Homo sapiens: one gene and its partners. The protein of the gene in region 4 interacts with the protein of the main gene of each other region in a pairwise test. Each region holds a gene or a part of one and is shown on either strand. Other genes may lie near its edges.

Evidence for each region.
Region 1: the proteins of NGLY1 (region 4) and UBXN2B interact in binary tests that used the Homo sapiens proteins (3 or more experiments, as listed by UniProt).
Region 2: the proteins of NGLY1 (region 4) and NPAS2 interact in binary tests that used the Homo sapiens proteins (3 or more experiments, as listed by UniProt).
Region 3: the proteins of NGLY1 (region 4) and PAX5 interact in binary tests that used the Homo sapiens proteins (3 or more experiments, as listed by UniProt).

Annotation. Positions count from the first base shown.
Region 1 is NC_000008.11:58,449,322-58,452,001, reverse strand, and holds the end of UBXN2B (UBX domain-containing protein 2B), read right to left. Parts: 3' UTR 501-2,680; downstream 1-500. UniProt on the Homo sapiens protein: Adapter protein required for Golgi and endoplasmic reticulum biogenesis. Involved in Golgi and endoplasmic reticulum maintenance during interphase and in their reassembly at the end of mitosis.
Region 2 is NC_000002.12:100,823,139-100,830,177, forward strand, and holds part of NPAS2 (neuronal PAS domain-containing protein 2), read left to right. Parts: intron 1-7,039. UniProt on the Homo sapiens protein: Transcriptional activator which forms a core component of the circadian clock.
Region 3 is NC_000009.12:37,031,244-37,038,089, forward strand, and holds the start of PAX5 (paired box protein Pax-5), read right to left. Parts: upstream 3,026-6,846; 5' UTR 2,789-3,025; coding exon 2,743-2,788; intron 91-2,742; exon of another isoform or gene 1-90. UniProt on the Homo sapiens protein: Transcription factor that plays an essential role in commitment of lymphoid progenitors to the B-lymphocyte lineage. Fulfills a dual role by repressing B-lineage inappropriate genes and simultaneously activating B-lineage-specific genes.
Region 4 is NC_000003.12:25,780,407-25,787,881, forward strand, and holds the start of NGLY1 (peptide-N(4)-(N-acetyl-beta-glucosaminyl)asparagine amidase), read right to left. Parts: upstream 3,038-7,475; 5' UTR 2,985-3,037; coding exon 2,854-2,984; intron 2,467-2,853; exon of another isoform or gene 2,332-2,466; intron 1-2,331. UniProt on the Homo sapiens protein: Specifically deglycosylates the denatured form of N-linked glycoproteins in the cytoplasm and assists their proteasome-mediated degradation. Cleaves the beta-aspartyl-glucosamine (GlcNAc) of the glycan and the amide side chain of Asn, converting Asn to Asp.

The DNA of each region.
Region 1 (2,680 bases), on a different chromosome or scaffold from region 4:
CAATATGGAAAGGTAGGACAACTCGAAGTGTGGGAGAGGACTTCCAGGGCACAGGTAGGTAAGAGACAAATGGTTGCATTCTTTTGAGTTTCTGATGAGCCCTTCCAAAGGAGGCAATCAGACAGGCCTTTATCTCAGTGAGCAGAGATAACTGAATAGAATGAATGGGAGGCAGGTTTGCACTAAGCAGTTTCCAGCTTGACTTTTCCCTTTAGCTTAGTGATTCTGGGGTCCCAAGATTTGCTTTCCTTTCACAGTTGTGACAAGGTTTTCAGAAATCCATTGTGGCAAAAAAGAAGCACCTGAACCTTTTTATTTGGGTAGAATAAAAACAGAAACAGTAACAGGATATTCAGATAATATGCTACAACCAGTTCCTTCCCTGTCCCTGACAAAGGTGCGCCAAGGGAAATTAAACCACAGGAAATGTTATTCATGTTAAAACAATCTATTCAGGACTCAAAACTACAAATCAAAGAAAATTTGAAAAACCTTTCCAATAAGTTTCAGTGAAAACATTCTTTATTAGTAAGCAGACATTTCAAACTTTTTGATTACATACATCATGCAAAATGACTGACCTCACAGATGGTTGTCTGTTCATTGTGACATCTTTTTTGAGATGATTATAAATTTAAGATGACTGCAGTAGTAAAAATAATTCATGAAAATGACTCTCAATGAAGCAAAACACTACATAGCACACATGAAATACTGTTCATCCCTCCTGGATGTTTAATTCTCTCCTAATGTAAATCTCTATCTTGGAAGACTATTATATACAAAAATGGCAGTTGTTTTTGTATGTGCATCTATAGGCACTCAACTGATAAAAACAAGAAAATTTCAAATAATTTTACAAGGATTGGTTATTTTTCCTGTTTTGTTAATCCAAAACAGGACAATGCCCTTTGATTTACAATGTTCAATTCTTTTAAGAAATCATTTTCTTCGGAAGATGATTTTGACCCATGAAAAAGTTGTTTTACCCCTGGTAATCTTTTTGAAATGGGGCTGGCTGTTACACATTATCCAAGTTGTTTTCAGTAAGTGAAAAGGAGTAGGGCTTATTTTGAGAATTCCTCTATATTACGGCACTGAGAAAACTTCTCTGCAGTGGTGGGCTCACCACTTTCATCCTGTGGTAGTTCTGGTAGCACTCCCAGTGTGAAAACCCTAGCACAGGTAAATTCACCTCTTTGAAATAAACAGTGACCCTGGAGAAAGGTGAATTCCAAATCTAGTACCATATTCAAGTCATCTGGCAGAGAAGCAGGCATAAAAGAGTTTTCTAGGTACTTGAGGTGCTGCTGTAACAAATACCTAAAAGTAGAAAAGTGGCTCTGGAATTGGGCAGTAGGTGGAGGCTGGAAGAATTCTGAGGAGCATGCCAGAAAAGAAGCTAAACTGCCTTAAACAGACTGTTAGTAGAAATATGGAATGTTAATGCTAGGGCGGCCTTGAAGAAAGGAGCATAATAGAGAATACCTCGATTGCCATAGAATATCTAAATCATCATGAATAGACTGTTGGTAAAAAATGAGGAATATGTTACTGGAGAAGTGGAGGAAAGGAGTCCTTGTTACATAGTGGCGAAAAGCTAAGCTGAGTTGTGTCCTGCCGTTATGTGTAAAGCAGAACTTTTAAGTGATGACTTCAATATTTAGCTGAGGATATTTCCAAGCAAGCTGTGGAAGGTACAGCCTGCTGTCTTCTTGCTGATTATAGTAAAATGTGGAAAGAGGTAGATTGAGGGAAGACCTGTTAAATATAAAGAAACCAGGACTTGATGATTTGGGAAATTCGCGGCCTATTCAAATGGCAAAAGCCACTAAAACTAAGATTCACCGTCAGGACAGCCTTTACTCTAGAGAAAGTGATGAAGATATGGCTGTATAACCTTTTGCTAATACTTCAGAAACATCAAAAGGTCTGAATATCAGGTCACACACAAGACTCTTTGAAGATATTAAGGGTGTGAATCATAGATCCTCTCAGCTATTTCAGAAAAAGCCAAAAACAGAGACAGGATTTTCCAGGAAAGATACGTGAGGAGCCTCCTATCTAAATGAGTGCATCCCTGTGACATATGTAAAAGACCCACAAGTTTCTTGACAACGTTATAGCAGCAGAAGCACCACCATTTTTAACAGAAAGCTTTAGAGAATATAAAAGAAGAACAAACTGATAAGTTGATACTCAGCTGCAAACGTGTGCTACCTTTTGTGAAAAAGTAAAGATGACTCTGAGACAGTCAACAAGCCCAGAGAACAGCAGTGAGCTGAAGATTACTCCCAGGCCTTGAAACTTAAAGAAGGGTGCCTCGCTGGTTTTGTAAATTGATTGGTGCTGATGGCTCCTTTTTCCATCTGTTTCTGCTTTTTGAACAGGAACGTGTGTAACTATTATTGTCTGCCTGTCATGCCATCATACTTGGGAACAGATAACTTGTTTTCTAGGTTCACAAGTGCACAGTTGGAATTATGTCCCAGAAATCACACACAGATCCTCTCCCAAACTTAATTTAGATGGCTTCAATGTGAGATTTGAGACTTTTGAGTTGGTGAGACTCAGATAAGATTTTGGATTTAGAGTTGATGCTGTAATAATGGATTGTGACTTTTGAGCACCTATGAGTGATGTAAATTTATTTGTGATGAATCTGAATCTTTAACACAGG
Region 2 (7,039 bases), on a different chromosome or scaffold from region 4:
ATTTCTGAATGCTAATGGGGTACTTAACTATGAGTAATTCTATTTTAAATCTCAAGGTGATGATGATTAATAGTATCTCAGGGCACTAAATAAACATGTATTAAATATGAGCGTATGTTTAAAGGGGGAGTTTTTAATGCAGTCTTTAAGGCACAACTGCTTCTCACTTGAATTCTTTAACTGAGATTAAGGAGTCCTTGGCATTTTAAGCAAAGTCATTTCTTAGGTAAAGTTCCCCCAGAGACCACTTGAACTTTTGCAAGTCTTAAAACAATGGGTGGTTCCATTTGATGGTTCAGAATAGAAAGGAGAGTGTTGATCCTCTACACTGGTATGAAAAAAACTGTATAAGGAGATGGAGGATGCTGGATATCATAGTGCCCGAGAATCACCTGGGGCCCTTGTCAAACACAGATTCTAACTCAGGACACCTGGGAGAGGACCCGAGCTGCATTTCTCACAGCTACCAGATGCTGCACGCTGGCAAGGTTTTGGGATGCACTGAATCCAGTTCAGCATGTTTACTGAGCATATACCACATAGAGAGCCCAGATGATAAAAAAATGAGAAGATGGGTTGTACCTGCCCTTGAGGAGCTAACAAGGTGAGGTGGCAGGGAGAGAGAGAGGGATTGTAAACTGAAAATGAGGTTCTGGGATGCCATTCTCTGGGGTGGTGGCCAGAAAGGGGCCCAGGAAAGGAGAGTTGCTGGTAGGGCTTCCACATTGCTGACCTTGACCTGTAGTCATATTTGAATGGAGAGCCTTGTGACTTGGCAAGAAATAAAATGCAGATTTTGAAGTCAGACAGACCTGGGGTAGCCTCCCAGCTCAGCTATGGCAACTTTTAACCTGAGACTCAGAGTCCTTGTCAGAAAAACAGTGCAAATGATGCTTACCTTGCCAAGTTTGTAGAATTACCAGTAAAGGACGCGTGTTAGGCCTAACAAAAGTGATTGCTTTTATTACTGTTGATAGGAGAGAGGAGGCTGGAAAGCAAGGAGGACGAAGAGGTTACTAAAATATGTTCCATGTAGTTCACCAATTAGAGATTCAATTTGGTTTACCAGCAAACCCAAGGCCGGCCGTGGAGAACCGGGCCAGGGCTGGAGGGCAGGCAGCTGTGGAAGCTAATCAGAGGCAAAATGGAAAATTATTGGGAGCATGCTTATCTCCACCCTCTCCTGCAGTCCCTGGCTTCTGGTTTGCTTTGTTGATAGCCCTTCCTAGGATATTTTCATCTGAAGCTTTTCTTGGTACTTAAGCTGTAGGTTCTGTTGATCAAGACTGCTAGTGGCAATCAAGCGCTCTTTAAAAATGTAGTGGAGAGGACAAACACCTCTCCTCTTTGAGGGGCATTGGTCTATTCTGTGGTGGGTCACTTTCCAGGATCAAAGCCATCAATCTGTCTTTCCACCATAGTACGAGTTACTTGAAACTAGTGCCGAGCGTGTTGGAATTCACCTGGGGTGCCTTTTATGCTTTGCACTCTAAGATATTGCTTCCTCCTGCCATCTAGGAGAGATGGATATTGCAAGGCAATGGTGTCCTTCACCCTGATATTAGGAGGGGTCACCTGGGTGGCCCTGAAAACACTTCAACCAACATCACTCTGATTTTTTAAAATATATTTTGGGATTCCATTTATTATTTGCAAAGGCGATTTCTCTGCTACCATTTGCCTTCCACGCTCCCTGAAAGTAAATCTTGAAAACCAAGTTCTAAGAGAATGGCAATGGCAGTTTGATGTTTAGGGGGAAGGAAAAGCAGAGGAACCCCCTGGAGCCAAGGCAGGCCTGGGTGAGGGTGGAGACGAGAGAGGGAAAGGAAGGCATCGTCAGGCATGGGAGTACCAGGATGGAAATGGGAGCAGTGGTGGGGGCTGAAGCTGAGAGGTTGGACCCTAGGACTCAATTTGTGGACTTTGTTGCTTTGCTGAAGGCCGTGGCAGATAATGTTCCCAGACCACTGAAAATCATCCAGGCTTCCAGAAAACACAGGCCCATCTAAAGACAGACAGGTGACGAGGTGACAGAACCTAGTGGCGTGATTCTTCTAGCCTCTTCTGAGCCAAAAATGACATGCACAATTTTATGAATGATATTTGTGCCCCTTGGTGATAAAATATTAAGAGCTCGAGGTCATCTGAAAATTATTGGTTTTTTGTTTATAAAAGTACATAGTTTTTGGAAAAGATAGAAAAGAAGGAAAAAACCCCACAATTTCAAGATATATTTTCCGTTCAGTGTTTTTTCTATGCATTGAAATATTTTTATATTAGTTTATCTTAAAAAGCACATGGATATAATCTTGTAAAAATTTTCAAATAGCACAGAACCATTTCTAGTAGAAAGAAAAAAAATTCCCTTCATCCTTGTGGCCTACCCATAATCATCGCCCTATCTTTTATTTGCCTAGCAGAAACTGGATTTTGTACAGTAGACTGCCAACCCACACCTGCCTCTGGAGGTTTATCAGATTGGCCACTCAACCCTGGTGAGGGTGGGGCTGCTGCCCTTGCCAGTGACTGGCTCAGGGTGAGCATGCGGACCCTGTTCTAGCCAATAAAATGTGAGGGTGGGCCACTGGGAGGCTTCTGGGAAAGTTTCCCTGCTCTCAAAAGAGACAAGGAAGGAAACAGTCCTTTCCTTCCACTAGATACTGTGATATGTGGCCATAATGCCTGCAAACTGGGCAGCCATCAGCCACCAGAGGGGCTGGGCCAGGTCTCAGCTGACCTGCGGAAGAATGCAAAGGTGAAGAAGGGCAGGGGGCGGGGAGGTCTCCGTGGTGCCCTTGACTTTCTGAATTACACAAAGAAGAGTCTGTTTTTGAACATGTGTGAGATCATGAAACCATTACCAGATGAAGCAAACTGAGCTAGTTTTTCTGTTGTAGCCAAAAGCATCCCATAACTCTCCACCTTTCTCAGGAGGTAATGACTGATAACCATGGGGCATGTTCTGCTAGTCATTTTTGGCGCATTTACATATACACACACATATGTACACTTTTAAAAACTAAGGCCGGGTGCACTGACTCACGCCTGTAATCCCAGCACTTTGGGAGGCCGAGGCGGGCGGATCACGAGGTCAGGAGTTCGAGACAATCCTGGCCAACATGGTGAAACCCTGTCTCTACTAAAAATATAAAAATTAGCTGGGCATGGTGGCACATGTCTGTAATCCTGGCTACTCAGGAGGCTGAGGCAGGAGAATCACTTGAACCAGCGAGTCGGAGGTTGAAGTGAGCCAAGATCCTGCCACTGCACTCCAGCCTGGCAACAGAGCAAGACTTTGTCTCAAAAAAATAAAATTAAACTAAAAAATAAAAACAAAAACTGAACTCATTTTATGTATATTATTTAGCAACTTAATATGGCATGGATTTTTAATGACATACCTTTTTCTTTATTTTTAAAGGCTACAGAGTATTATTCAGAAGTACAAATAGGACGTTATTTAACCCATCCCTATTAATAAATAATCTATTGAGTTGACTGTTACAGTTTTTGTATTAACTTCCTTATCTGTATATCTTTATGTACATTTCAAGATTTTCTAGGTCAGGGATTATTAGGCCTGGGTAAAGGCACACCTGTTTGAAATATTGATAGATGCTGCCAAATTGGGGGCTAAAAAAAGCTATGCCTGTTAACCTCCCCATCTACAGTGTGTAAGGCCGCCTTGTCTCCATATCTTAACTAACACAAGATATTTTCCAGCTTTTAAATCTTTTTTGTGCATTTTCACATGTTTGAGGTAGTACCATTTATAGTTTTCTATTCTGATTGTTTTGACGTGAACATAAGCATTTTTCCATGACATAAACAATTTAAATTAAATTTTATTGGCTACATAATAGTTATACTTGTTTTGGGAGTGTATCGATGGTACATGAAGACGCAAAGGGAAATATTTGAAATAGAGGTTGTCTATGAAAATTAAGTGGCTATGATCGACCTTGCAGTAAACCTGAAAGATTTTCTGGAAATGGTGTTGGGAGACACACCCCTCCAGTGATATGTTTCCAAGAAAACCCTGAGGAGATGACCTTCCAGGCCTTTCTCAATCCAGTCAGATGGTAGGCTGCCCCAAGCATTTCTAAGAAGCTTTGTTGCTTTTAGAATCCATCAGATTTACAGTCAGACAGGTTCTAAATTCAGTTCTCTGAATGTACAGTAGTTACGTAAACACTTCGTACATTGCATGAGACAGCTGAAAAGTAAATTTGCTGTATTCTTTTAATTTTTTCGACTTTTATTTTAGATTCAGGGGATACATGTGCAGGTTTGTTACCTGGGTATATTGCATGATACTGAGGTGTGGGGTATGAATGATCCTATCACCCAGGTACTGATGTAGTACCCAATAGTTAGGTTTTCAGTCCTTATCCCCTGGCTCCCTGCTCCCTCCAGTAGTCTTCAGTACCTGTTGTTGCCATCTTTATGTCCACAAGTACCCAATGTTTAGCTACCACTTATAAGTGAGAACATGCAGTATTTGGTTTTCTATTTCTGCATTAATTCACTTAGGATAATGGCCTCCAGCTGCATCCACGTTGCTGTAAAGGACATGGCTTCATTCTTTTTATGGCTGCATAGTATTCCATAGTATATATGTAACACATTTTCTTTATCCAGTTCACTGTTGATGGGCATCTAGGTTGATTCCATGTCCAGTAGACATGGACATGGAATCACGATTGCTATTGTGAATAGTGCTGTGATGAACATGTGAATGCATATATCTTTTTGGTAAAATGATTTGTTTTCTTTTGGATAGATACTACTATCAGTAGTGGGATGGCTGGGTCAAATTAGTAGCTCTGTTTTAAGTTCTTTGAGAAAGCTCCAAACTGCATTCCACAGTGGCTGAACTAATTTACATTCCAGTCAACAGTGCATTAGTGTTCTCTTGTCTCCACAGTCTCTCCAGCATGTGTTTTTTGACTTTTTAGTAATAGCCATTCTGGCTGGTGTGAGATGGTACCTTATTGAGGTTTTGATTTGCATTTATCTGATGATTAGTGATATGGAGCATTTTTTTCATGTTTGTATGTCTTCTTTTGAGAAGTGTCTGTTCATGTATTTTGCCTATTTTTAAATATGGTTTTTGTTTTTTTTGCTTGTTCAGTTGTTTAAGTTCCTTATAGATTCTGGATATTAGACCTTTGTTGAATGAATAGTTTGTAAATATGTTCTCCCATTTATGTAGGTTGTCTGTTTACTCTGTTGATAGGTTCTTTTTCTGTGCAGAAGCTCTTTAGTTTAATTAGGTCCCACTTGTTAATTTTTGTTTTTGTTGCAATGGCTTTTGAGGACTTTCTTTCCCAAGGCCAGTGTCCAGACTGATGTTTCCTAGGCTTTTCTCTAGGATTCTTATGATTGAAGTCTTACATTTAAATCCTTAATTCATCTTCAGTTAATTTTTGTATATGGTGAAAGGTAGGGGTCCAGTTTCATTCTTCTGCATATGGCTAGCTAAATATCCTAGCCCCATTTACTGAAGAGAGAGTCCTTTCCCCATTGCTTATTTTTGTCAACTTTGTTGATGCTCAGATGGCTGCAGGTGTGTGGCTTTATTTCTGAGTCCTCTCTTCTATTCCATTGGTATATGTGCCTGTTTTTGTACCAGTACCATGCTGTTTTGGTTACTGTAGCCTTATAGTATAGTTAGAAGTTGGGTAATATGATGTCTCCAGCTTCGTTCTTTCTGCTTAGGATTCCTTTGGCTATTCAAGCTCTTTTTTGGTTCCCTATGAATTTTAGAAGAGTTTTTTCTAGTTCTGTGAAAAATGACATTGGTTGTTTGATAGGAATAGCACTGAATCTGTAGATTGCTTTGGGCAGTATGAGCATTTTAATAATATTGATTCTTCCAATCCATGAGCATGGAATGTTTCTCCATTTGTTTCTGTCATCTATGTTTTCTTTTAGAAGTGTTTTATAGTTCTCATTGTAGAGATCTTTCACCTCTTTGGTTAGCTGTATTCCTATGTATTTTATATTTTAATGGCTGCTGCAAATGGAACTGTGTGTGTTTTGTTGTTTTTTTTTTTTTTTTGAGACAGAGTCTCATTCTGTCGCCCAGGCTGGATTGCAGTGGCGCAATCTCAGCTCACTACAACCTCAGCCTCCTGAGTAGTTGGGACTACAGGCACGCACCACCATGCCTGGCTAATTTTTGTATTTTTAGTAGAGATGAGGTTTTGCCATGTTGGCCAGGCTGGTCTCGAACTCCTGACCTCAAGTGATCCGCCCGCCTGATCCCAGCACTTTGGAACTGTGTTCTTGATTTGGCTCTCAGTTTGGACGTTATTGGTGTGAAATAATGTAGAAATGCTACTAATTTTTGCACATTGATTTTGTATCCTGAAACTTTATCGAAGTCATTTGTCAGTTCTAGGGGCCTTTTGGTGGAGTTTTTCGGGGTTTTCTAGCCATAGAATCATATCAGCAGCAAAGAGAGAGAGTCTGACTTCTTCGTTTCCTATTTGGATGCCTTTACTTTCTTTCTGTTGCCTGATTACTCTGACTAGCACTTCCAGTACTATGTTGAATAGAAGTGGTGAGAGTGGGCATCCTCATCTTGTTCCAGTTATCCAGGGGAATGCTCTTAAAACATTTTCAATTCTGCTAGAGAAGAGAGGAAGGCAAATGAAATGGATAAAACTCATAAGAAATGTTAATCACCCTTCAGGCAAGGGCACATTTGAAAAGCACCACTCTTGGGCATGGACCTCTGATCATCCTTCTACTTCCTCACTCCTAAGTGATAGTGCATAGCCCAGGAACACCCACCACCTGCTGTCCTCCAATAGGAAAGGAAAAGGCAAGATGACAAAAGAAAAAACCTTCTCAGAGTCAACAGACCACACAAGAAAAAGATACCTTGAAAGCAAAAACAACCTATCAGTAGACTTCCTGGGGACATCATGAGGCAGCCAGCATAGCTCTTTGGTCTTTGTTGCATGCATTGAGGCATCCCAAATATCCTAACGCGAATAGAATTGTTAGTCATCAGACTACGTGCAATAAC
Region 3 (6,846 bases), on a different chromosome or scaffold from region 4:
GGACTACTCTCTCTCCCAAAGACTTGAGACAGGCAGCCCCTTCTAAAGCCTCTGCTTCCCCGTTTGTTTAATACAGAGAACAAATCCTGAGATGTGACTTCTTAGGCTCTGTGAGATGAAGCTTCATGGATGGGGGTTATTAATATCTATCACTCCATTCCAGGCTCATTCCAGAACTGTGAGACTGGATGTCAATGCCCAGTGGGAAAGTACTCAATCCATCCAGGTCTGCCCGGATCTAAGGACTCAAGGGTTCCCATGGCAAGGAGAGACTACTACTTGTCCAAGTAGTAGTTTTTCTCCAAGGGGGTCCATGGAGAGAGGGGGGAATCTGTCTCTTCTCCCAGCAGGAACAGGAGGTCTAAGGGCAGAGAGGTCACCTTCCATTCCTATTCCCTCCCTTACTCATGCTTTATGATCTCGAACAAGTCCCTTCCCCTCTCCGAACCTCTGAGTTTCCTTTCCCTACAGCAAGGAAGACATTAGAGGAGAAGGTCCTTAAGTGGCTCCCTGCTTAGTGTTGACCTGACCTTATTTTGGGCTTAGAGCCAGAAGGACACACTCCCTCCCCATTGGGCAGATAGGGAAACTGAGGTTGGGGTAAGAAATGGAATATGGTTCTGAAGGAAGAAAAAGGAAGTCTATTGGCCCATGAAATACCCAGAAGTTGGGAGAAGGAAGAAGCTCTCATAGGAACCAGACCTGGACAACCCTTTGAGCACCAGCTTGGACAGCTTCTCAGCTTCCCTCTCTTCTCCAGCCCTGACCCAGGCTGGAGTGGACAGATGGAAGTGCAGTCTCACTTGAACTGTCGCCCTTTTCCAGGCAGGCAGCTCTTCCCCAACCCATCAGTGAGGAGGGGGCGTGGCTCTCTAGATTTTAAGGCTTGGCCAGCCTAGGGCTCCCGTATCTCACCCCACCCCAAGCCCCACCCAGTCCAGCTATGCAGAGGAATAAAATGCTTTATTGATTAAATGATTATTCAGGCAATTGAACTAATCAAAGAGCCCATCGACCGCCATGAATTACATTCTTCTACACAGCTTGTCGGGAGAGCCAGCCCGAGGACTGCGCAGACCCTCTCCATGACACTCACACATCCCCGCCTCATTCCCCACACATACACAACACCCACTTCCAGGCTCAGGTCTCTCTGAAAGTCCATCTGCTGAGAAGCCCACTGCCAGGGAGAAGGGCCTTCTGAGAATTGAGGATGGAGAAGAGGAGTTTCCAGGTAACTTTTCCTGAGCCCTCATCCTGGGAGCACTCTTCTGCCTCAGATCTCTGCCCTCACTTCTCTCCAGCCACAATTTTGGAAACACAGTTATGCCCCAGAAGTTGTCCTGGGCTTGGGGTCTAAGTTTATCCTTTTTGCTCTTAGGCTTGTATTTGAGGCTGGAGGAGAGATGGGGGTTCTCAGAGGGCACAGAGATGGGGGAAGGGGGCTTCTTGCCAGGGCCAAGAGAGTGTTTGTGTGGGAGTTACACAGTGGCCTAGTGAGTGAAAGAGGCCCCCCATACCTGATTCATGCCTCAGGGCAGATGGAGGCCTACTGTCCCTGCTATCTCCTCTCAGACATAAACACATCCTGCTACCTACTTCTCAGGCCTGTGGGAGGCACATGGGGACCTAAGCCAGGGAGGCCTGTGCGCATACAGGCCCTAGAGCTGAATGCCCAGACTATGCACATGCATCCACCCACTGTGCTCTCCTCCACTGGTGCGGCACCCACAGGATAAAACCTGAGGACACAGTGTGTGTGTGTCTGTGTGTACACACAAATACACACGCCAGTGTCAGAGGCTTGTCTAGGTGAAAGTGAATGTAGGCTGGGGGTCCCTAGAAATGTCACAACTAACCCTACAGGTGTCCGCTGTCATCTGCAAGGTTGTGCCTGCCACAGGAGACCTGTTTGTACAAATGGTAGCCTGAACAGTGCTCACTGCACACCAAGAGGCTGCATGCCCTGAATTCACACCTTCATTCCTGGTCCTATCTCCCAATAGAATGGACACTGGGCCTTACAATGCACATGCTAAACACCACGGATCTCCATAGGCCCCAGACCCACGTCTAGGAGTTTGCCTAGAGACACAATGTGAACATTGGCGTGTATGCATCGGACAGCCGTTGACATCCAAAAATGGAAAGGTCAGTGTAGCCACTTCTTTCTCACATCCAAAAATCACTTGGGATATAACAGGTGAATGCAGACCCTTTAAATAGTGGATGTACACTCAGATATTTCCGAATTACATAAATAACACTCATAGTAGACACACATTTTGGATACCCAAAAGAATATACACAAGTACTAACTTATAAACACACACGAATACCCCACGAGTATAAAGATACACACACACACACACACACACACACACAGGCAAACAACTTTTGGACACAAACTCATATATTTTTACATCTTTTAAAAATACATATACTGTAATGAACACACTGAGTCCCTTATATAAACACACAGGCCCTAACTTGCAGACCCCCGGAAGGACGCCAGCGTGAACATTCAGAAACAGAGAAAAACACAGACAAACTCACAGATATTTGGACTGATGCAGAAGTGTGTGAACAGATAGGTGAAAAAACATAACAAACACGCCGCAGTTAGACAGTCTCTACGAAAATGCGGCGCGCCCCCTCCTCCTCCAGGGTCACCCTGCGTGGGGACCAAGGCCTGGCCGTGTCCCGGAGTTTGCACATCTGGAGCCCGTATCGCGGTCCTACCTGTCCTGCTGGTCCGAGGAGTCGGATAATTTTTCTCTAAATCCATTTTGATTTTTCAGGACTTGATGGAATGGACAGGGAAAAGTTTCCACTTTTTTGTGCCTTTTTTTTTCTTTTTTTTTTTTTTTTTTTTTTTTTTTTGGTGCCAGGGGCCGCTCACAGGTCGGAATAATTCAAGCCTTCCGCTCCCCCGCCGAGCTGGGGTAGCTGATCACTGAGCTGAAACTAAACGTTTTAGGTGGAAAAAAAGCGTCCGAAGGCACCGTGAAATGATTAAGGAACTAAAGAGCTTCTCGCCATGTGAGATCATGTCCTGTTCTCGCCAACATCACAAGATGTCCCCAGACACGCCGCGCCCCCAGCGCGCCGCCCCACACTGCCGGCCCGGAGCGAGGAAAGGGTAGGCGCTGCGCGGCCGGGCCTGCTCAGCGCGCCAGACGTGGCGGACCCGGCCCGGCCGGAGTAGAGCGGGAAGCCGGGAGAGCAGCAGTGCTGCTGCCGCGCCGCCCCAGACTTTTATAGGGGTTGGGGGGAGGGAAGGAAGGCTTCAGCCTGCGCCGGGCGCTAGCCAGCGCACCTACGGGAAGGGGCAGACCGAAGCGGAGCCCGGGAGCCCGGGTCTTCCAGCCGCACCTTCTATTAAGACATGCGCTTGGGGGTCGCGGCCCTCTGCGCTGTGCGCGGGGCCTGTGACATCTCCATGTGCAAACCCCGCTGCTTAGACGAGCGCAGGCCGGGTTTTTGTTTTTGAAGAAATTAACTGCTCGGCCAAGCAGGTGCTTTTGAAAGGGGTTGCAAAGGCTGGCAGTGTTGCCAGGCACCGAGGCGACGTTCCGGTTTACTCCGATTCACCCCTAGGGCGGCGCCCGACCCCAGGGTTCCCAGCCATCCAACCCCCACCCCAATTTGTTGGGGTCCTGACTATTGCTGGGCCCCTGACCCTAGGGCAGCGCCAGATCCCTAAAGCCCCCAGGTCCCATCCAGTCTTCTAGTCCCAGAACCCCTCCCCACATCAAGTTCCATTCTGGCCCAGAGCATGGAGGTTAAGCTGTGAAATACTGGAGATGAAATCCGGGCTTCCGCTTTGGAGCACCCGGGCAGAGCAGAACATCTCAGTAGTTTCTGGAGATTGGCGGGAGTTCCAGACACCTTACCCCGGCCCATAAGTGGAATCGCATTGCCCTCGAGCCCTGAGACGTTGTGGAGTCCCAGAGCCCCAGGACTTGATTCCAGAGAGGAAATCAGATCCACAGAGACCGAGCAGAGGTGTGGCATGTCCAGCCCTCTCTCTTCGGGCCAGACTCAAGCCTCCCCTCCCTGTTCCCCTCCCCAGCCTTGAGTTAGTTCAGCTGCTGGGCCTAGCCACTGAAAGCCTGTGGGGCCCTGCAGCGGGGTGGTCGCAGGGGAAAGGTTCTCCAGGGCGGGGGAGCGCTCCGTAGGAGGACTCCTGGCCCGCCGGACAATGGCAGTTTTGGAGAGTGAATCGTCCTCAGCAAGAGTGTTGTTTGTTTTTTGGAGGGGGTGGTCACGAGGCTGGGTCGCAACCTAGGGGGAAGAGCCTAGAGCTCGAGGAAAGGGGGGCCCCCGGCGGCAACTGGACATCACATATCCACTGAGCAGATTTCGCCACAATCGGAAATGTGGCTGTGGATTCCCGGGCGGCCCCCCCACCAAGTGGTCTGCGCAGTTCCCCAGCGCCGCCTCCTCCCTGCAGCCTGCGGGCCCGTGTCCCTACCCCGAGATTTGATTTTTGGCCATCTCCGAGTGCTCGACTCTTTCCCTCCGCAGCCCAGCCCCAGCCCAGGCTTCCCGCCCTCCCGCCTCGCCCGCGCCGGGAGGCAGCGCCTGGGAGGAGCGGCCTGTCCGCGCCTGGAGATCAAAAGCCCTCCCGGAATTGACATTTCACCCCGGGCTGGGGGCGGGGGGTGTTGGTGTTTTGTTGTTGTTGTTGTTTCCATTTAGAGGGCTTGTTTTGTTTTTGTTTGTTTTCTGTGAGTTTTCATTTTTCCATGGGATATTCTTTTGTTTCGGGTGTTTTGCGTGTTGTTTTTTCGTGGGATTGATTTTAGCGGGTTTTGCTCTGTAAGTCCTGGTCTTTGGGGTGAGTTTTGATTTTGTGTAATTTTGTACTTTGTCCTTGTAGGCTGTCTTTTTGTGTGTCGTTTGTAAGGCTTTTCCTTCTCCGCGGTGTTTAGATGTGTTTTGATTTGGTGTGAGTGGGTGTCGTCTGTGTGTGTGTTGCCTTAGGGAATTTCGTGTTGTGTGTGTTTTGTTTCCTTCGATTTGAATTTTATTTTTTTGAACTGTACGTTTTGGTGGGGGATCGGGTTATATTTTCATGTGTTGTCTTTAGTTTTTGTGTTTGTGAGATGCGCTGGTGAGAGTTTGCGTGTGTATTTTGGCTTTTGTGGGGCTTTGGGATTAGGGAGGGGACATCAGCCGCTACTCCGTTCCTGCCCGCACCCATGAAGGGCAGAGGATTAGGCCAAGCATCACGAATCGTAGGTTCGCCGTGCTCCGCCGCTTCGCGCTCTGGACGCTCGAGACCAGCGGGAAACAAATGTGGTTCCCGAGGGGGCGCCCGCTGGTCGTCAAAACCTCGCGGGCCCGGAGGCGCCGCTGCTGGGTCAGAATCGCAGAGCCCCCCTCGCGGGGTACCGAGGCCCAGCCGCCGTCCCCTTGCCCACCCTCTCCCCTGTGAGTCGGTCTCCCCTTGCGCCTGGCCAGCATGCTTCGGACCGTCCGGACTCCCGCAGCGTTGGCCCAAGGGGCGGCTCCCCTCGGCGGAGCAGGTGACGAACCACTTCGGAGGACACGGAATTGACACTGCGGCCCTAGAGATACGGGACAAGGGGCCAGAACGCGGGGAGTCTAGGCTCAGATCGGAGTCGGGATCCCGGGAAAATCCCCCATCTCCCTTGCCCGCAGCCCTAGAATCCCAGAAACCCAACTCCGCGCAGCTTTCGGTTTGGAGAGCCCGCCCTGGTTTGCAAGCACAGATACATGTGCCCACACCCGAACACACGCAGACACCGCCAGAGAGCGAGACAGCGAGCGGGCGCCTCCGTAGCAGCGGCCTGCGGGGCGGAACCGGAGCTGGCGCCGCCTCAAGGGGAAACCGAACTGTAGTGACCGGAAATGTCCCCAGGACAGAATAAGCCATTCCTTCTGTCCACGTTGCCAGGACTTCTCCAGCTCAACACACCTTGGTTTGTTTAATGTTACACGAGGGAGAAGATTTAGAGGCAGAGACACATGCTGGCTCAATCGGCGAGGAAATACGAGCAGAGTCTAAACAGAAAGAAATATGGAACGGGGGGAGACTAGACTGTGGGGAAGGCAAATTGGAGGCCCAGAAAAGGGGCTGGTGCGGAAGCTCCTCCAGGCCCCTGGGCGCTCTGGCATTCTGTGAGAAGGAGAAAGCAGAAGCCGAGAACAGAGAGTGACAGGAAAAGAAAAGAGACGCAGAAGGGGTTGGCCTAGGCACGCTGCGAGCTGCCCTCCAGCTAAGACGCTGCGGGCAAGGGAGGGGGAGGCCGACATCGCCAGGCGAGGGGCCAAGGTCGGGCTCTTTAACTCAGCCAGGAAACATCGTTGGGGGCTCCAGGGCTCGTGGAGCCCGAACTGGGGCTCATTTCCGGCCCGATGCCCCTCTTCCCCAGACCCCTAGCCCGGAATCCAGCAAAGGCTGGGCCATCGCCGTCCGCCACTGGGCCTCCCTCTGTGCGAGCCCTGGGAGAAGCCTCAGGGAACGACTCTGGCACTGGGGCTCGGCCCCGGAGCTAGCGCAGAGCGTGGGTGGGAGTCGACATCCAGGCAGGAGGCAAAGAAGAGGCCCCGCCCTAAAGCCGAGGGCCCAGTTCTTCGAAAGCCTGTGGCCGGAGCTGGACTCACAGGATTCGGGGTCCGTACAGCGCGCACGTGGTACCGCATCTTCGGCAGGCGGCGCCCCTAATGCCCAGCCCCGCCCTGCTTCGTTTGCCGGGCCTGAACTGTGTCAGCATTGAGGGTGGACGCCGAGTCGCGGCGAGTTGGTCCCTTGCGGTATAAACTTGGGGCTTCCCTAGGGGCGGTGCCGGGATGGATGGGGGCGCCTCTCCACCT
Region 4 (7,475 bases):
ACTCAATGTATTTCACAGGGTGATAAACATGTCAGTACCACCAGGATGATATATCCTACTGGTTCAAAACTGCTTGAGCTATTTTAATCTATTCTTTTCCTCACAGCTTTCAGATCTCTACATGCTGGGTCTTTCTCTGGGCTAATTTTCTAGTTTCTTCCTGCTTTCACAATTGTTTAAAAATTCTTATAAAATACACATCAGTTCTCATATAGTTTTTGTTTTGTTTTTTAAAAAACAAAGTGTTGCTCTGTCACCCCGGCTAGAGTGCAATGACGCCATCAAAGCTCATTGCTGCTTAGAACTCCTGGGCTCAACAATCCTCTGCCTCAGCCTCTGAAGTAGCTAGGACTACAGGTGAGCCACCACGCCTGGCTATTTTTTTTTTTTATTAAGAGATGGGGTCTCACTGTGTTGCCCCGGCTGCAATCCTTCTACCTGGGGTGTCCTAAAGCCCTGGTACTACAGGTTGGAGCCACTTCGACTGGCCTTTGTTATTTTGATATATGTTGTTACCATTTAACTATTGATATACAATATAGATTTTCCTCTTTAGTTTCTAGTGAGCATTTTTTTTTTCTTTTTTGAGAAAGGTCTCACTTCGCCATCAAAGCTAGAATGCAGTGGCATGATTATGGGCTCAAGCCATCCTCCCACCTCTGCCCTCCAAGTAGCTGGGACTACAGGTGTCTGCCACCACGCTTGGCTAATTTTTTAATTTTTTTGTAGAGACGGGGTTTAGCCATGTTGCCCAGGCTGGTCTCAAACTCCTAAGCTCAAGCAATCCGCCCACCTTGGCCTCCCACAGTGCTGGGGTTACAGGTGTGAGCCACCGTGCCCAGTGAGCAATTTTATTTTTATATCATCTCTGGACCTCACATTAATCTATTTTTCTCAGTAAAAGTATACTGCAAACAGGCTCCAGCAATGACAGTCACATCCAGTTCCTCAAATTCTTTTTCTTATTAAGTATGTTGAGTAAACTGACCGTGGTTTTGTGTATAGACTGATACCAAAGGCCTGACCCTAAAGCCCTCAAAGACTTAGAGGGCTGTAGGGACATTAGACTTCAAACCCATCATATCCTCTTTCCTATCCTTGGAAAAGCAACGCACAAAGACTTTCTTAAACTCTTAATTTCTCAGCATTATTCCAGTGTGTCCACTATCCTTTGCGCTCATTGTCACACCCCTCATCTTTCAGAATCTTGAAGCTGTGAGGCGGAGGTTGCAGTGAGTCAAGATCGCGCCACTGCACTCCAGCCTCATCAACAAGAGCAAACTCCGTCTCAAAAACGAAAATCAGCAACGAGCCATTAGTAAACATTCATAATGAAGATTATGATGCTAAATGTCATTATTTGCATGCAAAGGTTTCCCCCTCATACTAAACCTCAGCATTTTGGGTTTCACTAGATTTAAAGCAGAAGTGAGGCTTCATTACAAGGCCACCTCTCTTTTCTGACTAGTGGGGTTTTAAATAGCCTGGTGGCTTTCCAGGTGGTAAGTCTCAGCTAATGGGCTCTGGAGAACCCAGCCTATCAGTTCATTTATGGAGTCCCTTGGCATCCTTGTACTGTGAAGAGCTGTAAGGCCTCAAAGAGTAAAAAAGGTGAGTTGAGAAGGTGTCACAGAGCACGAAGGTGGTCCCCACACAGGTCACAATTATGTAGCTGTGAACAGGCCACATGTTGCATCTTTCATAGCATCTGCCACAAAATAAGGGCTCAATATATTTTCCCTTCAATTTACTTTAAAAATCATTACCATTGCCTAAATGAAATATTACTGACATGGATTTTAAAAACTGCACATGTAACTAATGTCTAAAATTGGGTCACGTGAAACCTATAACCTTGAAACTGAGAATTTCCTTTTAGACTTCATGACAATATACCAAACACTTAATGCACCAGGGGCTGAGGGGAACAGAGAACCTAATTAATCACGGTGACCTGATAAATGAGGTAACACCCCTAAAGCAAGTGGCTCTCCTTTAACCTCAGTTCCATTTCCCTACCCCCCCACACCATGTCCCTTCAGATCATTTGATCTGAAGAGTTGAGGTGGGTACTTATTCAAAATGAATAATCAAACTTGCCTCCCAATTCCCAAAATCTGCAAGGTCCCTTAGACCTCTAGAAGTGCAATTTTGCTGACAGGAGAATGAAGGAAATTACTCTCATCCAAGGCGATTACCTCCACGAATTCTTAAAGGGTTATGTTACATAGTAGAATCCAGGTATTAATATAAAAACTGTAACTTCAAAATACTATAATGTTTCAATCAACAAAAGTGGGCAGAAAAAAAATTAAAAATTTTAAAACCCACCACTTCAGAAGCATTATGCTTTAGTACTCGGATAGTCTCAACATGGGAAGAAAACATCACTTTGTCAGTGAGTAACTTCTGATAAGTATGTGGAAATGTAAGCCACTCCGCTCGAAAAATGCACGCAGGGGGAATGACACGCGCGGTGCGGTTACCGTTGTGTCCCGATATCTGAGGCCGTTAAACGACGAGAAGAGCGGCAGTGTCTGAAGCACGCCTTCCTACCTCTCCTCCGCCCGGCCCCGCTTCCGGGACTCCAGTTCACCCGCAGCACCCTGACTGCAGGTGCCAAGTCACAACTGCAAAGAAACTTCCTTTTCTCGAGCGGGGGTGGGACTTGGCCGGGTCCCGAGGCCCCTGGCCGGCGGGCTCGGACGTTAGGAGCAGAACCAGCTCCAGGTCCCGGTCTGTCCGGGCGTCGCTGCCCTCTGAAGCTCAGGCCGGACGCCCCAGTCCCTGGCCGAACAAGGTGCCGCGGCCCACCCACCCCGGTACCCGCCGTCCGACCCCGTTGCCCTGCACCTGAGGATGTTGTCAGCATAGGTGAGCAGCAGCTTGGAGGCCTCCAAAAAGGTCTCCGGGGTGTTCTGGCAGAGCTCAGCCACGGCCGGGGACGCCGAGCCTGAGGAGCTGCCCAATGCCGCCGCCGCCATGCTTGAGCGCCAGCGGGCGCCGCCGCCGCCCCTCGCTCTCCGCGTCCCACACTGAGCAGGCGCCTCAGCGCGCAGCAGCTACCGCAGCCACCGGCAGGGGCGGGGTCCTCGGCCGGCAGGGGCGGGGTCCTCGGCCGGCAGGGGCGGGGTCCTCGGCCGGCAGGGGCGGGGTCCTCGGCCGGCAGGGGCGGGGTCTTCGGCCGGCAGGGGCGGGGTCGGGGGCCTGGGGCGGGGTCGGGGACCGGGGCCAGGAGCGGGGGAGCTCGGCTGGGAGCTACGGCTGCCCCTTCGCGGGGGGCAAGGGGCTGTTCGGAAGAAGGTGGGGGGCCTCGGCCGGCAGGGGCGAGGTGCTTCGACCCAGAGTTGGGGCCTGGTCGTACAGGTTGGGAAGGGGTTCCGCAGGGAGAGGCGGGGCCTGGGCTCCGGGGCTGAGGGGTGTGGGCCTGGAGGAGGGGGATGTCGAGTCCTTTAGGACGGAGGAGCTCGGCTGGAGGGGAGGCCGGCTTTGGTCTAGAGGTATCGGGCGAATGGTGCTGGCACGTGCCTCTCAGAAACCCGGATCCCTTTGCGCTCCGGGGCCAGCCTAATTGATCCAGCTATTAAGGTGGAGAAACCGCATGTACCTCCCTCCTTTCCCCACAAATAAAACCACCTTAGAGCCTTCTCTTCGCAGATTGTCAGGACGTTCTACATAGATGTGGATGAAAGACTACAGAAGGAAGGAGCAACAAACGTCAAAAACAAAACCATGGCTATAAACTCTGCTGGGTTTGTTATATGGATTCTTTTCAGAATTTGGCTAATGACTGAAAATCTAAGTTCCAGCTCAACTAGTATATGATTCCTCTGTAAGGAAGTGTATTTTTAAACCATAGGTTGCGACATAATAATGGGTTGTGGATTCGGTTTACCGCGTGGTGACCAGCGTAAAACACATGCATAATAATTACGCAATATTATAGAATGTCGGGGGCGGGAAGGGAATAAAAATTTGCATCCCACACAGTAAGGGTAAGTAATATTTTGTGACTTGTTTTTTAGGTAGATCATGTGATCAAGGTCTTTTATTCCTCTTAGAAGATGCATCCCTTACTACTTTAATCCAGTCTCTTCCCCACCATGTTCTTGAAAGTGTACTTTACCAGTGGCTTCCTTCTTTGCAGAAATTCCTTTTCAACCTCACGAAGTATTTTTCTTGACTTTATTTCTTAAGATAAGTGATTTGCCTGAATAACCTCTTTTAAATTTCTTGATGTTTCATCTGTTTACTTTTAAGAATTGAAATTTTCTTCCAGAATCTCCGAACAAGACCCTAAGCTATGACATCCAGTTCAATGACTATTCGTCTCCCAAATATACGTACGCTTTTAATAAATATGTAAATCTTTGGACCACCTTCCAAGTATGGTGTGTTCAACAGATAGTAGTATGTTACTACCGTCTGTAACTAAAATTTTCAGGGGCTTAACACAAGAGTAATTTCTTTCTGGCTCATATAACACTTTAATAATGCAGGTGTCATAATGTCAGTGGACCCAGTCTCCTTCCATACCTTAGAACAGGGGTCAAGAAACATTTTCTGTAAAGGGCCACATAGTGTTTTAGGCTTTGTGAGCCATAAGGTCTGTCTCAACTATTTAACTCTGCCTCTGCAGCTGTTGCTCCACAGACAATACTTGAAAATAAATGGGCATGGTTATGTTCTAGTGAAATTTTATTTACAAATCCAGGCAGCCTGCTTGGACAAAAAAAAAAAAAAAAAAAAAAAAGTCACACCTACTTTTAACCACATGAGCCCAGAAATGACACACAGCATTTTCTCTACCATATCATTACTAAGAATGAGGCCTCATCAAGATAAAAGGGGGTATTTCAGTAAGGCCAGATTTACAAAAAATAAAAAAAAAATTTAAAAACACATAAAAAGATAAAAGGGGAGAGTCTGGGAAATGTAGTCTCGTCCAACTACACAATGGATTGGGGGCTTGGGTCTGGAGATATAGCTATCACAAACTTTATTCCTCTTAATTTGGGTTTCTTTTTCCATTGATACATTTATTTATCCTTTACTAATTATATGAGAATAGTATATATTATACAGTACTTGTAACTTTTAAAAATGCAACAGAACTTTTTTTTTTTTTTCAAATAAAATTTTAGGGGCTGGACATGGTGGCTCACGCCTGTAATCCCAATACTTTGGGAGGCCGAGGTAGGTGGATCGCTTGAGCCCAGGAGTTCAAGACCAGCCTGGGCAACATGGCAAGACCCCATCTCTACAAAAAAAAAACAAAAACAAAAACATAGGAAGATTGTCTATATACAAAACACCAAAGTGGAAATGCTCTGGTATTGAAGCAGAGGTGTCAAGTGAAGGGCAGAAAGCTGTCAGCTAAGGCTTTCCCCTGACAGATAGAATGGTCATAGGGTACTTTTGTGGGGGAACAAAATGACTTTTGTTTTTCTCTTCATAATAGTTTGTTTCCTCAACTAAAACGCTATCTCACTGTAAGTTATCATTAGTTTTGTCTTCCCTATTTGATTAAAAGTCTCTTGTGCCATCTGTCTCAGACTGCTTTGCACACAGCAGGTACTGAATAGAGTTGTTGGTTAATCACTCAATGTAGTCACACAATAGTGAATCACTATACAAATTCCTGAAAGACTTCAACTCCTCCCCTTGCTAATGGTTTTTATGGAGGTTAACTTTTTAATATCACCAAACCAATCGTGGGGAAAATTTACAGAGTTCTTTCTTTTTTGTTTTATTAAAGAATAGTGTTAGCCAGGCGTGTTAGTGCACACCTGGAGTCCCAGCTACTTGGGAGGCTGAGAGGCAGGAGAATCGCTTGAACCCAGGAGGCAGAGGTTGCAGTGAGCTGAGGTTGCCCTACTGCACTCCAGCCTGGGTGACAGAGCGGGACTCTACCTCAAAAAAAAAAAAGAATAGCGCCATGATATGTCAACTCTAAAAATGATGTTTTTAATAAAGGTGAAATCCTGGGGAAAAAAAAAATCTTTATTTTGGAACAAAAATAAATAAATAAAAGAACAAGAATTTCAATGCTGATTTAGTACCCATTCTTTGGTTGTTTGAAACAACGATGGGTATAAAAGTTAGGGTAGCTTATTCAGCTTTTCTAAAGGAAATGGAAGAATTAGAATATCTCCAACTTGACTGAAGTGGGGGAAGCAGCCAGGAAAATGAGAGACCAAGTCCCTTTATATAATGGATTCCCTTAATAGCTTTATAAATGGCAATATTCAAAAGAGATTACAGTTACTCAAGAACTTTAACAGAAGTGTTGCTAAAGAGTTATTTGGAAGGACTTAAATTTCAGATGATTTTTTTAAAATGGTGATTTCCATGATTTTATGGACTGTACATTGTTATCACAATATTAATGCTATGGCATTGGTTTTCGCAAAAGTCATTTGGTGAGAAATGCACAAAAAGTGCATGTGTACTATCAAATGTAAGGATAAATGTTGATTTATTCATTCCATAATTCATTCATTCATCATGTATTTATGAAGTGACTACTAGTTGCTCAGCACTGTGAAGGAGACAAGTATGGTCCCTACTTTCATAGAAGTCATAAGTTTAGAGCAGTGGTTGGACAAGCAACAGCAGCATCAGCAGGAAACTTGTCAGAAAAACAAATTCTGAAGCTCCACATTTAAAGGTGGGACCCAGCAATCTGTGTGGTAACAAGCCCTTCAGGTGATTTTGATTAACAGTAAACTTTGAGAACTACTAGTTTAGAGGGAGGAAAATTTCACTGTGGGCTGCAGTTTCAGTGAGGGGGGACAACTTGAACAGAAGCCTTAAATTGAGAGGTTGAGAAGGTGAGAAAGGAGAGGACTTGCTACCTGTGAGAGACTCCCCACCCTCCTTAAATCATGTACAATATCCTAGTAACGTTTCCTTCTCAACATCTCCTGGATCTCTCCTTGCCATTGCCTTCAGAGCCTCGTGTTTCATCCATTCTTAACTTTCTTCCCTGTGTCCATTTCCACATCCTTCCAACCCACCCTGCTCATTTGTGCAATAGTGATCTTTCTAAAGCACCCATCTGATCATGTTGTTCTCCTGGTAAAAAGTTTTCTATGGCTCCCTCTATCCACATTCTAAAGTCAAATGGTGTCAGGAACCAGGCTGGTAAGTTAAATATTTTAAGTGGCTTTGTTCAAGACAAAGAGGAGTAAGAGAGACTCCAGTGAAGGGAATGAGAGAGTTTACCATGTCCTTTCTAGAGGAGTTTAGAATCAATAAAAGAATGTTGCACTCCAAATTATACCATGAAGGCTAGCATATGGTCTCTGAACTACGGGATTAAATCCAAAGTCCTCAGTATGATACCCCAGGCTTTTGTGATCTGGGCCCTGCCTTACTCTCATGCGTTTACTGTTGCTTTGTCCCACACTTCAAATTTGACATGGGCCACATATTTAGCTGTTTGTGGAAGATACCATGACACTTCATTTCTC